Homo sapiens: one gene and its partners. The protein of the gene in region 1 interacts with the protein of each later gene in a biochemical or structural test. Each region holds a gene or a part of one and is shown in the gene's direction. Other genes may lie near its edges.

Evidence for each region. Proteins that work in one complex are often made in the same cells at the same time.
Region 2: of the proteins of PTPRJ (region 1) and LEPR, one has a biochemical effect on the other in vitro, tested with the Homo sapiens proteins (one large-scale study listed by IntAct).
Region 3: of the proteins of PTPRJ (region 1) and TIE1, one has a biochemical effect on the other in vitro, tested with the Homo sapiens proteins (one large-scale study listed by IntAct).
Region 4: of the proteins of PTPRJ (region 1) and PDPK1, one has a biochemical effect on the other in vitro, tested with the Homo sapiens proteins (one large-scale study listed by IntAct).

Annotation. Positions count from the first base shown.
Region 1 is NC_000011.10:47,987,059-47,990,558, forward strand, and holds part of PTPRJ (receptor-type tyrosine-protein phosphatase eta isoform 1 precursor), read left to right. Parts: intron 1-3,500. UniProt on the Homo sapiens protein: Tyrosine phosphatase which dephosphorylates or contributes to the dephosphorylation of CTNND1, FLT3, PDGFRB, MET, KDR, LYN, SRC, MAPK1, MAPK3, EGFR, TJP1, OCLN, PIK3R1 and PIK3R2. Plays a role in cell adhesion, migration, proliferation and differentiation.
Region 2 is NC_000001.11:65,633,668-65,637,167, forward strand, and holds part of LEPR (leptin receptor isoform 1 precursor), read left to right. Parts: exon of another isoform or gene 1-1,761; intron 1,762-2,523; coding exon 2,524-3,348; 3' UTR 3,349-3,500. UniProt on the Homo sapiens protein: Receptor for hormone LEP/leptin. On ligand binding, mediates LEP central and peripheral effects through the activation of different signaling pathways such as JAK2/STAT3 and MAPK cascade/FOS.
Region 3 is NC_000001.11:43,314,482-43,317,981, forward strand, and holds part of TIE1 (tyrosine-protein kinase receptor Tie-1 isoform 1 precursor), read left to right. Parts: exon of another isoform or gene 1-818; intron 819-2,717; coding exon 2,718-2,928; intron 2,929-3,082; coding exon 3,083-3,193; intron 3,194-3,400; coding exon 3,401-3,500. UniProt on the Homo sapiens protein: Transmembrane tyrosine-protein kinase that may modulate TEK/TIE2 activity and contribute to the regulation of angiogenesis.
Region 4 is NC_000016.10:2,597,021-2,600,354, forward strand, and holds part of PDPK1 (3-phosphoinositide-dependent protein kinase 1), read left to right. Parts: intron 1-102; coding exon 103-255; intron 256-630; coding exon 631-747; 3' UTR 748-3,334. UniProt on the Homo sapiens protein: Serine/threonine kinase which acts as a master kinase, phosphorylating and activating a subgroup of the AGC family of protein kinases.

The DNA of each region.
Region 1 (3,500 bases):
TTAGCTGGGCATGGTGGTGTGGACCTGTGGTCCCACCTACTTGAGAGGCTGAGTTGGGAGGATGGCTTGAGCCCTGGGAGGTTGAAGCTGCGGTGAACCTTGATAGCGCCACTGCACTCCAACCCAGGCAACAGAGTGAGACCCTGTCTCAAAAAGAAAAAAAATAAAAAATAATTTATTTTAGGGGGTCTTAGTAAAGAAAGACCCCCAAAAGTCCATGATTTTATAGGTCGAATGAGGTGAAAAGTGGTATCATGATAAATAAATTTGTTTAAATATCATAAAAAGTTGGTCTAAAGAAAAACATTGGGTAAATAATTATGTGAGTATGATGTGGTTATGACCAAATTGTAAAGATGATCAGTTTCTTAAGTCTGGGGGACAGGCACTGAGCAGAGGCCGTGGTGGGGAACAGGAGCCTGTCTTCATGGCTCTTACTGGCCACTGGGCAAGACTCAGATAGCACCAACCAACCAGTCACAGTTGTGATGTAGGATGTGACTGTGAATGACATCCCTGCTGCCCGCTTCAGAGAAAGGGCTGCCACTTGCCAGAGAAGGAATGGTGATAATGAGGGACAGCCAGTCCCTAAGTGGAGATCCCTGAAAGTGGTGAATATCTTAGACCAGAGAAGCCCAGAGCAGTTTTTTTACCACCTTGTATGGCTGGTTTTCCAGTGGCTTTACTGGTGCCCCCTCGGAGGACAGGGGCTGTAGGAAGTTTGTTATTACTTCCTTATTAGTGACAGCTGCAGTCATCCTATTGTCTCAGAATTTCCCTGGCATGTAAATGGTAGGATAAGGGGTGGTGGTAAGCAGATGGGGGGCATTTTGAAAACGAGGCAGTGTCAGCTCCCACAGAAGGTCTAATTTTAAACATGCAAATAATTTTCAGTTCCACTTTTCCTTCTTCCTGTTAGAGGGAAGTTGTCCCCTGTTGCCATTTCTGAAACTTGGGCGGACAATGTCGTTATTGTGTTACAAACGATTTGCGTCTCCAGGGCAGGAGTTGGGTGATATTTTTCTGGGAGCCTGTGCCAGGGCGTAGCCCAGTGTTATCTCATGGTTTCTGAGTGAATGAGTGAGTGAGTATTAAAACTTCATATCAACATGGAGCCTATAACACAGTGGTTCTGAATCTTTCTTGGGGGGGAAAAGAAGAGATACAAGACCCCTAGAGAGTATAGAGAGTATGTAAAAGGGAAGAATCCTTCCCCAAAAGGGAATGCACATATTTACAATATTGTATCCAATTTCAGAAGGTTTTTTTAAAATTTTTAATTTTATTGTTTTTTTTTTGAGACACGGTCTCAGTTTGTACCCCAGCGTGGAGTGCAGTGGCATGATCTTGGATCTCGGCTCACTGCAGCCTCTGCCTCCTGACCTCAGGTGATCCACCCACCTCGGCCTCCCACAGTGCTGGGATTACAGGTGTGAGCCACCATGCCTGACCATGACTAGTGTTTTGATGTGTGGATTTACTACAATTTATTTGACCATTCTCCTATCAATGGACACTTTAGTTGTTTTAGTACACCTCCCTGTCCCGTCACAAATCATACTTTGTAATGTTTCTGGTGGATATTTCTTGTAACCTTCACAAGTTTATCTGTAGAGTAAATTTCTAGTTTCAGGATTACTGGATTGGAAGATGCATGCATTTAAAAGTGTGATTGCTGTTGTCAGGTTGTCCTCCAAAAGTGTCCCCTCAGTTTGTACCTGTATCCATAGGTTTGGAGAGTGTCTGTTTCTCCATACCGTCTCATCTGAAATGAAAATTTTTACATGTTTGCTAGTCTGAAAGGTGAAAAATTGTATCTTGTTTTTTTTTTTTTTTTTTTTTTTTTTGAGACGGAGTCTTGCTCTGTTGCCCAGGCTGGAGTGCAGTGGCGCTGGGCTCACTGCAAGCTCCGCCTCCCAGGTTCATGCCATTCTCCTGCCTCAGCCTCCCGAGTAGCTGGGACTACAGGCGCCCGCCACCAAGCCCAGCTAATTTTTTGTATTTTTAGTAGAGACGAGGTTTCACCGTGTTAGCCAGGATGGTCTCGATCTCCTGACCTTGTGATCCGCCCGCCTCGGCCTCCCAAAGTGCTGGGATTACAGGTGTGAGCCACCGCGCCTGGCCGTATCTTGTTATTTTTATTTATATCTTTAATTTTGAGTTAGTTGAGTTTTTTGGTCATTTGCCTCTGCTTCTTCTTCTTTTTTTGTTTTCTTTTTTTTTTTGAGACAGAGTTTTGCTCTTGTTGTTCAGGCTGGAGTGCAATGGCGTGATCTTGGCTCACTGCAACCTCCACCTCCCAGGTTCAAGTGATTCTCCTGCCTCAGCTTTCTGAGTAGCTGGGATTACAGGCGTGTGCCACCACGCCCAGCTAATTTTTTGTATTTTTAGTAGAGATGGGACTTGTTCCTTAGGAACCATGTTGGCCAGGCTGGTCTTGAACTCCTGATCTCAGGTGACCCACCTGCCTCGGCCTCCCAAAGTGCTGAGATTACAGGCGTGAGCCACTGTGCCAGGCCCCATTTTTTGTTTTTTGGTTAACTCCCTGTTCATTAAAAAAAAAAAATCTATATCTATAGATAGATAGATATAGATATAATCTTTGTTATCAATTTGTATAAGCTCTTTGGAAATTAGTCCTTCGATTGTCATTTGTATTGCAAACACATTCCCCCTCCCCCATGCCAATTATTTTAGATGTAGCACTTGTTCCTTAGGAACTCAGAGATAAATAAGACCCTAGGGTGGTGAAGAGAGCATAGAATTTGGAACAAGACTCCTTTGTTGGAGTCTTGGCTCTACCACCTCATTAGCTGTGTGATCTTGGGCAGGTATCTTGACCTTTCTGATCCTTGCTCTTCATATTCCAAAAATGCTAATAATAGGAGTACCTCTGACACAGGGTAGTTGGAGAAGCTAAGTGTGATCATATTATGCTAAAATTCCTTGTAAATGGCTATGGAAACATAAACACAGCATTTTATAAAATACCACGAGGTATTCCATTTACTGAAGAGTTACATCAGAAGAGTATTTCTGATTGTGCCACTGCACTCCAGCCTGGGCGACAGACTGAGATTCCATCTCAAAAAACAAACAAACAAAAAACTAGCCAGTCATTTATAAGAATGAGTTACAGCTATAGGTGCAGGCGGTAAATACTCTCCAAGATATCTAAATAAATTAAAAGGCTATGTAGAGAACAATGTATATATAATGTTACCTTTAAAGTGACAAAAAAAGGTGAATATAGATACTTGTGTATCAGAAGAGAGAGGTATTCCATTTACTGAAGAGTTAGGGCAAAGACCATAATATTGTAATTATCAATAATTATGAATTGTCAAAATTATGTCATGAAACCTCTTTTTTTCTTTTTTTTGAGGGGGAGTCTTGCTCTGTCACCCAGGCTGGATTGCAGTGGTGTGATCCTGGTTCACTGCAACCTTTGCCTCTGAGGTTCAAGTGATTCTTCTGCCTCAGCCTGGGATTACAAGCAT
Region 2 (3,500 bases), on another chromosome or scaffold:
ATTCCTTTATAGACACGTCAGCCTAAAAATCAGCCTATTCGGGTGTTCTTTTGAATATCTCCTGGCATTTTTGTATCTAACTTTGTTCAATCTGGGAATTTCAGTTTTCAATATCCTTGAAAATGGCTTAAGTGATAACTTCCGTTTCAGTTAAAAGGAAGCCCGAAGTTGTGTTTGTGCTGCCCACAGGACAGTGGGAGTTACAGTTCATATCAGGATGACCCTACATACCCAGGTCAGATTGACGGGACCAGAAGGGAACATCGACTTCTAATCCAGCTTTCTTGTTTAATTATGACCTAAATCTAATTTACTTCCACTGAACCATCCAAGACCTCTGGCAGGCAGGGAAATGGGCAGTGATGCAAAAAAGGGAGACTCTTTGGAGCTTTTATGAATAGTTCATGGTGAGGACAGAACTTTTCTACTTTCAGACAGACTGCTTGCTAGTTTTATGAATTCAGCACACGAATTATGCTGCGTTGCTCACATTCAAACCAAACCAACGACTATGTTTAATGAACTCAGTATTCAAATTTATTATATATGCGTATATATGTATATATGGATCCCTTATATTTAGATTTAACTCGTAGTTTTATTTGAAAGTAGAAAAGAACTCTACAAAAACGGGAAGAATGTGTCTTTCTTCCCTTCTTGACTTCTAATAGGTGTCATTGAAATGTAAAATCTAAGTATGAAATTATGAAAGGACATTCTTTAATTACTGCCCACTCAACACATATTTAATATGTGCCCAGATTATTCTAAAATCTTAAAAAAAGATGCATATAGTGAAATTTTTTAAATGGATATACTTTTAATAAAGTTTTATAACTCACTGACAAAACATATTTCAATAGTATATGAGTATGAGATTTCTTATCAATTATGAGTGAAATATTCTATCTGAATGCATTGGAAGGCATTTACAGTATTTGCTTTCAACAGTTACTGAGTATGACATTTTAGCATGAAATATATCAAACACATCATTTGAAGGACATATGTAATCTTGACTATGGTTATGGTTTTTTTGTATGTATTCCTTGTTTTCATATTGATAGCATCTAATTCTTTTGACAATCTTAATATGTAGGTTCATTTAAATTTTAAGACAGTTCAGTGCATATATAGTAGAAGCCTTAAGAAAAAAGAAAATGAGCAAGCAAATATTTGAAGAAATGTATAAAACCATAGATTTCTTTCAGAAAAAAAAAACAGGCATAGGAACAGTTTTCTCTTCATATATTATGATTATGAATAATAGGAAAGTTGTATTAATTCAGTATTTGTCATTATGCAGTATTTTAATACCTACATAAGTCTATTCCATTATTATATTTTGCGCTTGGCATATTTATTCCTTTATGCTTTTAATCACTAACATATTTTACTTAAGAGTATAAAACTATGCTAAATAAATTGTATTGTATATGGAATATGCTTGCCATTATGAAGAACAGCTGGGTATACCATTATTTCAAGTAATAAATCTGAATTCTATTAGTTTAAAAATTGTAAAATTCAAGTTAAATGACGTGTATGATATATAAGCTGAACACATTTTCTATAGCCCTTAATTTAGTTGTGTTAATTTTTCAAGGTGATGTATCAACAGCTTTTTTTATTTTGCATTTGTTTTTTCAATGTGTTTACATTGTATGAATTGAGCTTTTTGCCCACAGATTCTTGATTTGTAGTTGTTTGGCAGGATTTTTCTTTGTGATATAATCACTTCTATAAAAAATATGATGTACATTTGTCTTGTGTATTTGTCTTCATTTCACATGTCCATAGTAAATATTTTTACGTGAAGTTATTTATAAGGAATAGTAATTTACCAGTTTGTGATCATCTCTTTCATCATCATTGTTCTCTACATATGATATTATTAGCTCTTATTTTCAGATAGTCTCAAGCAGATTCTCAGTATACAGCAGATAAGTTTTTAATAGTCAACACAATTATTTTACTTTCATACCATATCTTATTTCACAACATAGTTATTTTAACTGTTTTTAGACAAGTTATTTTGGTCATTTCATTTCAATCCACTTTTTTCTATTTTGGGCTAACATTTTTAGTTTATGGGAATGTAATTTGCTACAAAATATTAGGAAGGAAATATCTTCAGAAGATAGCATTTTCCAATGACAGTAACCAATCTTTCCTGAGAGCTAAGCACTTGCAGACACTAATTTATTTCTAGCCACAATACCATGAAGCACATTTTTAGAGATGATGAAATTGAAAGGCAGAGAGGTTAGTGTACTTGTTCATGGTTGTAGAATTGGAAGAACTCAAGTCTAAGTCTGTCTTGTCCCACTTTCAAATGCTATCATCTTAAACGGGCTCTTCCTTATGCTTTTTGATATATGTATTTTAGTCAAAAACTAGTTAATTTGTGGTTGACTTATGTTCTTTATTATTAACTTAACACACTTCCATTTCTGCCAGTATGACATAATGAAGCAAAATTTTTTAACATAATTGAGCCTTAAAATGTGTCTTTTCTTTTAGCCAGAAACGTTTGAGCATCTTTTTATCAAGCATACAGCATCAGTGACATGTGGTCCTCTTCTTTTGGAGCCTGAAACAATTTCAGAAGATATCAGTGTTGATACATCATGGAAAAATAAAGATGAGATGATGCCAACAACTGTGGTCTCTCTACTTTCAACAACAGATCTTGAAAAGGGTTCTGTTTGTATTAGTGACCAGTTCAACAGTGTTAACTTCTCTGAGGCTGAGGGTACTGAGGTAACCTATGAGGACGAAAGCCAGAGACAACCCTTTGTTAAATACGCCACGCTGATCAGCAACTCTAAACCAAGTGAAACTGGTGAAGAACAAGGGCTTATAAATAGTTCAGTCACCAAGTGCTTCTCTAGCAAAAATTCTCCGTTGAAGGATTCTTTCTCTAATAGCTCATGGGAGATAGAGGCCCAGGCATTTTTTATATTATCAGATCAGCATCCCAACATAATTTCACCACACCTCACATTCTCAGAAGGATTGGATGAACTTTTGAAATTGGAGGGAAATTTCCCTGAAGAAAATAATGATAAAAAGTCTATCTATTATTTAGGGGTCACCTCAATCAAAAAGAGAGAGAGTGGTGTGCTTTTGACTGACAAGTCAAGGGTATCGTGCCCATTCCCAGCCCCCTGTTTATTCACGGACATCAGAGTTCTCCAGGACAGTTGCTCACACTTTGTAGAAAATAATATCAACTTAGGAACTTCTAGTAAGAAGACTTTTGCATCTTACATGCCTCAATTCCAAACTTGTTCTACTCAGACTCATAAGATCATGGAAAACAAGATGTGTGACCTAACTGTGTAATTTCACTGAAGAAACCTTCAGATTTGTGTTATAATGGGTAATATAAAGTGTAATAGATTATAGTTGTGGGTGGGAGAGAGAAAAGAAACCAGAGTCAAATTTGAAAATAATTGTTCCAAATGAATGTTGTCTGTTTGTTCTCTCTTAGTAAC
Region 3 (3,500 bases), on another chromosome or scaffold:
AGCTCCTCATCCTAACCTTCATTCTTGCAAATCCCAGGGCCTCCTTTTGGAGACTTAAGAAAGGGGCTGGGCACAGTGACTTGCACCTGTAATCCTAGCATTTTGGGAGGCTGAGGCGGGTGGATCGCCTGAGGTCAGGAGTTTGAGACCAGCCTGGCCAACATGGTGAAACCTTGTCTCTACTAAAAATACAAAAATTAGCCAGGCGTGGTGGTGCATGCCTGTAATCCCAGCTACTCGGGAGGCTGAGGCAGGAGAATTGCTTAAACCCGGGAGGCGGAGGTTGCAGTGAGCCGAGATGTTGCCACTGCACTCCAGCCTGGGCAATAGAGCAAGACCCTGTCTCAAAAAATTAAAAAAGAAAAAGAAACAGAACTAAAGAACTGTAGGGGCTTCCTTATACCTTATGGAAGGAGGCATATTCTGTGGCCCTCAGACCGCTGCCACAACCCCTTCCCACTTAGACAACTGTTTCTACCACTCCAGAATTGTGCTGGCCTGCTCCTTGAAAGAGGAAGCACAAACCTCCACTCCTCCTGGCTTCCCTGTAATCCTGCCCGAGTTGTCTGTCCTCCTGTAGCCCACACCCTTCTGTCCCTCAGGCCCCTGCTTAGAGGTGGGGTGTGGGAGGGCACCCACTGTCACTTTATCCTGTCACATTCTAGCCGCCCATCCGCAGGTCCTGTCTCCTCTGAGGGCTTCTTCATTGTCGTCACTTAGGATCTGAACTCTGTCCTTGGCCTTCCAGGCCTGGACTCTTGATATTTAGAGCTAAGCTTTGGCATTTCAAATAAAAAATAAAAAAAGAAAGAAAACCCTCTTCTCTCTCAAGGGCTGATCCTTGTGATAGAAAGCCTAGTGTCTCTGCTATGCCTTTGAAAAATCCATTCAGAGGCCGGGCGTGGTGGCTCATGCCTGTAATCCCAGCACTTTGGGAGGCTGAGGCGGGTGGATCATGAGGTCAGGAGTTCAAGACCAGCCTGCCCAGTTGGTGAAACCCCATCTCTACTAAAGCTACAAAAATTAGCCAGGCACAGTGGCAGGAGCCTGTAATCCCAGCTACTAGGGAGGCTGAGGCAGGAGAACTGCTTGAACCCGGATGGCAGAGGTTGCAGTGAGCCAATATCACGCCACTGCACTCCAGCCTGGATGACAGAGTGAGTGAGACTCCATCTCAAAAAAAAAAATCCATTCAGAGATTCAATTGGCTTCTTTGTTCCAAGCTGTGTTGGCTCTTCCTCTGAGGTCAGTGCACACAGAAAGCCCTCACTGCTGTGGTGGGGGAGGGTAATGGGTACAGATGTCGAGGGCAGGAGGTGGGAAAGCAGTCCTTAACATACATGGTGTCATACTCTATATCAAGATATATCCCCCTAGCCTGGGCAACATGGCAAAACCCCATCTCTACAATAAAAGAAAATATGAAAATTAGATGGGCGTGGAGGTGTGCACCTGTGGTCCCAACTACTCGGGAGGCTGAGGTGGGAGGATTGCCTGTGCCCAAAAGCTCGAGGTAACAATGAGCTGAGATCGTGCCATTGCCCTTCCGCCTGGGCAACAGAGCGAGACCTTGTCTCAAAACAAACAAAAAGATATATCCCTGGTACATGTGCCTGCATATGGATAGGAAACGTGTGTGCACAAATGTGTGTGCTCCATGTATGAGTGCACACGTGCATCCCCTGTGAGTGCCACATGTTTAAATGCGTGTGTCCCAGATGCACGTGTCCCTATGCCTGTGCACCTTCAGGCCTGCATGTGTGTATGGACCTATACATGATGCACCTACATATGGTGCTGCCCAAGAACATCACGTGCATTTGCTATGTGCCGTCAGCACCAGTGCTTCTTGCAAATCCCTGGGCCCCAGGTCCTCAGCCCTTGCCCATCAAGCTGGACTTCAGTGCACTTAGGAAGCCCCACCAGAAGGTCTGTCTTAACCCTGCTTCCAGTTCTCATATTGGCAGTTTCTTTGGTCCTGTTCACTTATTTCCTTTTCCCACCATCAGCCCCACCCAGATGGCCTCCTCCTACTGAGTTAGGAAATTGGACATTCCTCTTTGTTATAGTCTTGCTATTTTCAGGTCCTGGCCTGATTTTAGAGCTATGGAGAAAAGCCAAGTGTGTGGACAGGGTAATCTCTGCTTCTGCTACTGTGGAGAAAACCCCTCCACTGGCTCCCAGCAGCTCAGGGCTGAGCATGTAGTAGGTGCTCAATAAATGTCCCCTGGCCTACTCCCTAAGGCTGGAATCTTCTCCAGAGCTTCCCTGGTGACCCCCAACAACAACAACAACAAAAAGCCTGGTTGTAGGATTAGCACAGTCATAGGAAGCTCATTCCGATCCTTTTCTGTTTTAAATGTTAGAAATATCCTCCTTCCATTGACTCACATTGTGGCTTCTAGCAACTTTACCCACAAGCCCTGGTTCTGCCTTCCAGAGTCCCGTACACTAGATCCCCTGGCTGCAGCCTCTGCATTTCTCTCCTTGGACATCTGTCCACCCAGCAGCCTACCTGTGGCTCTGTTACCTATGATTCTGTCTCAGTTATGTCCTCTGTCTGCCTGTCTGTCCCTGGCTGACCACCAGGGTGCCCTCCATCTGGGTCTCTGCCCACTTGTCTGACACTGAAACCTCCTCGTGTGCCTGTCTGTGCCTCCTTCCGCCCCCTTTGACTCTTGCGTGGACCGTCTGCCCTCTTGTCTCATCCTGTGAAGGGCGAGGAGACCATCCTGCAGTTCAGCTCAGGGACCTTGACACTTACCCGGCGGCCAAAACTGCAGCCCGAGCCCCTGAGCTACCCAGTGCTAGAGTGGGAGGACATCACCTTTGAGGACCTCATCGGGGAGGGGAACTTCGGCCAGGTCATCCGGGCCATGATCAAGAAGGACGGGCTGAAGATGAACGCAGCCATCAAAATGCTGAAAGGTCCACTGGGGCGACCCCTGGCCCAGCCCTGATGCTCTCCTTTGTCCCACAAATCCCAGGCCCCACCTGGCTTCCTCCAGCAATTGACCCCAGCCCTTGCCAGCCCTTTCTCCAGAGTTATTTCTGGCAAAATAATATTGGATTCTTTACACAGAGTATGCCTCTGAAAATGACCATCGTGACTTTGCGGGAGAACTGGAAGTTCTGTGCAAATTGGGGCATCACCCCAACATCATCAACCTCCTGGGGGCCTGTAAGAACCGAGGTGAGCCCCCAGCTCATCACCTACCCCTTCTTCCAAACCCCCATCCTCAGCCATCACCTCCACCACATGAGTAGCTTGCCAGGGGCTGCTGGTGACCTGTGCACCACCCTTGATCCTCCTTCATCCCTGTCTGTTACCATCGGGTGCCTGCTCCCACCCTAGGTTGCCTGTGTCTAAATCACCACTGTCTGTCTCTTTGCCTCTCAGGTTACTTGTATATCGCTATTGAATATGCCCCCTACGGGAACCTGCTAGATTTTCTGCGGAAAAGCCGGGTCCTAGAGACTGACCCAGCTTTTGCTCGAGA
Region 4 (3,334 bases), on another chromosome or scaffold:
CTGTGTCCTGAGCAGCTCCGAGGGGCCGCCCAGCCCTCTAGGCTCCAGGAGATGCCGTCAGCACTGGCCTCTGAGGCCTGTTGTTTTGTGTTTTGGCGTCAGGGTTTATTTGCAAGACGACGACAGCTGTTGCTCACAGAAGGACCACATTTATATTATGTGGATCCTGTCAACAAAGTTCTGAAAGGTGAAATTCCTTGGTCACAAGAACTTCGACCAGAGGCCAAGAATTTTAAAACTTTCTTTGTCCACACGGTGAGTCTGTTCCCAGGGATTTCTGTGTGCAGGGTAATGGGAGGGCTTTGCACCACGTGGGAAGCAGCCACAGGCCTTGGCCAGAGGGAGCAGCGGGGATCGGGGCAGCTGCCTCGCCCTTTCCGACATCCCAGACGCCCACACTAGTGGCTCAGTCCTGAGGGGGCAGGGGACACCCTGTGCTTGTTTTTCAGTTTGGTGGTGACTGGGGGTGGTGGTCATCAGCCTGTGTAGTTGCTTACTGCTTGTGTGAATAACCGTCACACCCACGTGCTTTCAGGACTCGGAATGGCTGGTCGCAGGCAGCTCACCAGGTTGGGGTGGGGGTTTTGGTGGGACTCCCTGGAGAACACTAAACGGCTTCTGTCTTCGCAGCCTAACAGGACGTATTATCTGATGGACCCCAGCGGGAACGCACACAAGTGGTGCAGGAAGATCCAGGAGGTTTGGAGGCAGCGATACCAGAGCCACCCGGACGCCGCTGTGCAGTGACGTGGCCTGCGGCCGGGCTGCCCTTCGCTGCCAGGACACCTGCCCCAGCGCGGCTTGGCCGCCATCCGGGACGCTTCCAGACCACCTGCCAGCCATCACAAGGGGAACGCAGAGGCGGAAACCTTGCAGCATTTTTATTTAAAAGAAAAGAAGAAAAAAAACACCCAACCACACAAAGAACAAAACCAGTAACAAACACAAAGGAATTCAGGGTCGCTTTGCTTGCTCTCTGTGCTCCGTGGAGGCCTCCGTGTGCCCTCGTTGCCGTGGGGACCCAGCTCCATGCACGTCAACCCAGTCCCGCCCAGACTAGTGGACAGACCTGGTGTCACCAGTTTTTCCTAGCATCAGTCCGAACCATGCGCCCGCCCTGCCCCAACTGTGTGCTGGTCCTGCTGTGGCCGAGGGGACCGGGTGTGTTTGGCTCTTTATGCCCCTCCCGCTGTGGTCCTGGAACTCTTCACCAGGGAGGGAGCCCTGCGGGGGCCGCAGCTTTGTGGAGGGAGCCGCCGTGCTTCTGTCACCTGCTCCCTTTCTTGCGTCTCCCTGTGATGGGCCCTTAGGCCTGGCTGGGCCCATTACATATCCCTGTGGTGGCTCTGGTGGCAGCTTTCTGTGGCCCCTGCTGTGTTGGCAGGCAGGTTTGCGTGGTGAGGAGCGGGAGGGGTTGGAGTGGTGCGGGAGCAGGCTGCCGAGTGGAGGGTGCCATCGAGGGCTCCGGATCCCTTATCCTACTTAGCAGTGTTGGTCTCTGGGGCTGGAAGCCGAGCGCATGCTGGGAGCGGTACTGTCAGAAGTGAGCCCAGTTAGTACCCCGCTGGCTCACTGCACGAGAGAGTCCTGCCCCGAGCCCTAGGTGGGGCCAGGAGGTGCCTTGGAGAAGCCAGCCAGAGCAGAGAGGGCTGCTGACTTCCGTGTGGAGCAGAGAGGCCTGAGGGCCTCCTAAAAGGTTTAAATGTCCACGCCTCTCCAGTTGCTGAAGTAGGGTCTGAGAGAACCCTGGCATCAGCAGACCCAGGGTGCTTCTGTCTCCTGCAGACCACGCCAGGGAGTGCAGACACCACCGTCACACACGCCCCTTTTGTGTTTTGGTTCAAGTTTCTCAGAGCCCCTCAGAGCTTCTACATCTGTGCATCAGAAATCTCACAGCCTTCTCATGCTGCCGGCTCATCTGGGCCCATAGAGTGGGCTTTGCCAGTTGCTGTTGCACAGGAGGCGAGAACAGCACACTTCAACCCCAGCTTGCTGGTCGGCTTTCCTCTAGAGAGAGCCGGTTTTGGGGCCATTTCCCTTTGATGCTTTGGTGGCCTTGCCCCGCTCTGCAGCACAGACAGGCCAGATGCATTTGTCCTTTGCCTAGCTACTCCCCAGGTAGAGAGTGCTCCTGGTGGCCTGGCAGGTCTGGGCCCTTCTCTCCCTGCCCAGGTTGTCCCTGGAGGGCAGCCCTCACTCCCTTTGGGGGAGAGGCAGACATTGCTGCCCACAGACCTGCCTCTGACTCAACTGTGTCCACCCTCCCTGGTCCCTACCCCCAAGTCACAGGTGACTCAGCAGTGACCCTGTGTGCCAGGCCAGATCCAAACTGAGAGGGAAGGTGTCGTTTTTACACTGCTAATGACGAGAGTGGCTCTTTTTAGCTAGGCGAGTACAGACGGGGCCTGGGAGGGGGCAGAGATGTTCCCCAGGCCCTGCCTGTGGTTCCTGCCTGGGCCTTGGCTGCTGCTGTGTGAGAGCTGCATGTGAGCCTGTGACCGTGAGCTGGGGTGAGCTGGGCCGCACCTACCCTGGGGCCCCAGGGAGCAGGACGCTCCGGGGCCCAGCACGTTGCCCTGGGCCTGTGGCCGGAGTCGGAGTCCTCTCTCCTCCTCCTGGCTTTTGGAAAGGCTTGGCTGTGTTGGGGAGTCTCTCTTAGCCCTTTCAGGAATTTCTGTTCAGGCTTCCTCCTCCTCATCAGCTATTTTACCCATCTCAGAACGTCCTGTGTCTCCATGTAGGAGAGTGGCTCTCTCAGATCTCTCAGGGCGTCTGGTTATAGGGAAACAAGTGGAGCAGGGACGTGGCTTTAATTGGAGCACTCGGCTGGGCTGCTTGGGGAGACTCTTCCGTGCGTTCTTCCTCTGGATAGAACCACCACCTCCTGGGCGTCACTGACAAGCTCCATCTTAACCTCCAAAGCCACAGAACTAGGGGCTCAGAGCCAGAGCTGGCAGCCGCCAGCCAAAATGATGCCATTGCCTGAGCTGACAGCCAAGCCCTTCTGTGGGTCACCTTTCTCCTCACCCAGCCCCTTGCTCTTCCCTTTTGAAAGGCCCGTGTGTTTTCTTTCCTTACCCTGTGCTTGCTCATGTCTACTCCGGTTTTCTCTACCACATCCTTAGAGCCATCACCTGGCACGCAGGCGCCTTACATTCTACGGTAGAACGTGGGGTACTGTGTGTGCACATAGACACACTTACGTGGAATTACAGTTGTGGGTTTATCCAAGATGAGGAAGATTTCACCTGCTGTTTAATAGACTTGGGGCCATGTGCCTCCCCACACATGGGCAAGGACAGGTGGAATGTCGGGACCACACTGTGCGGCTTCT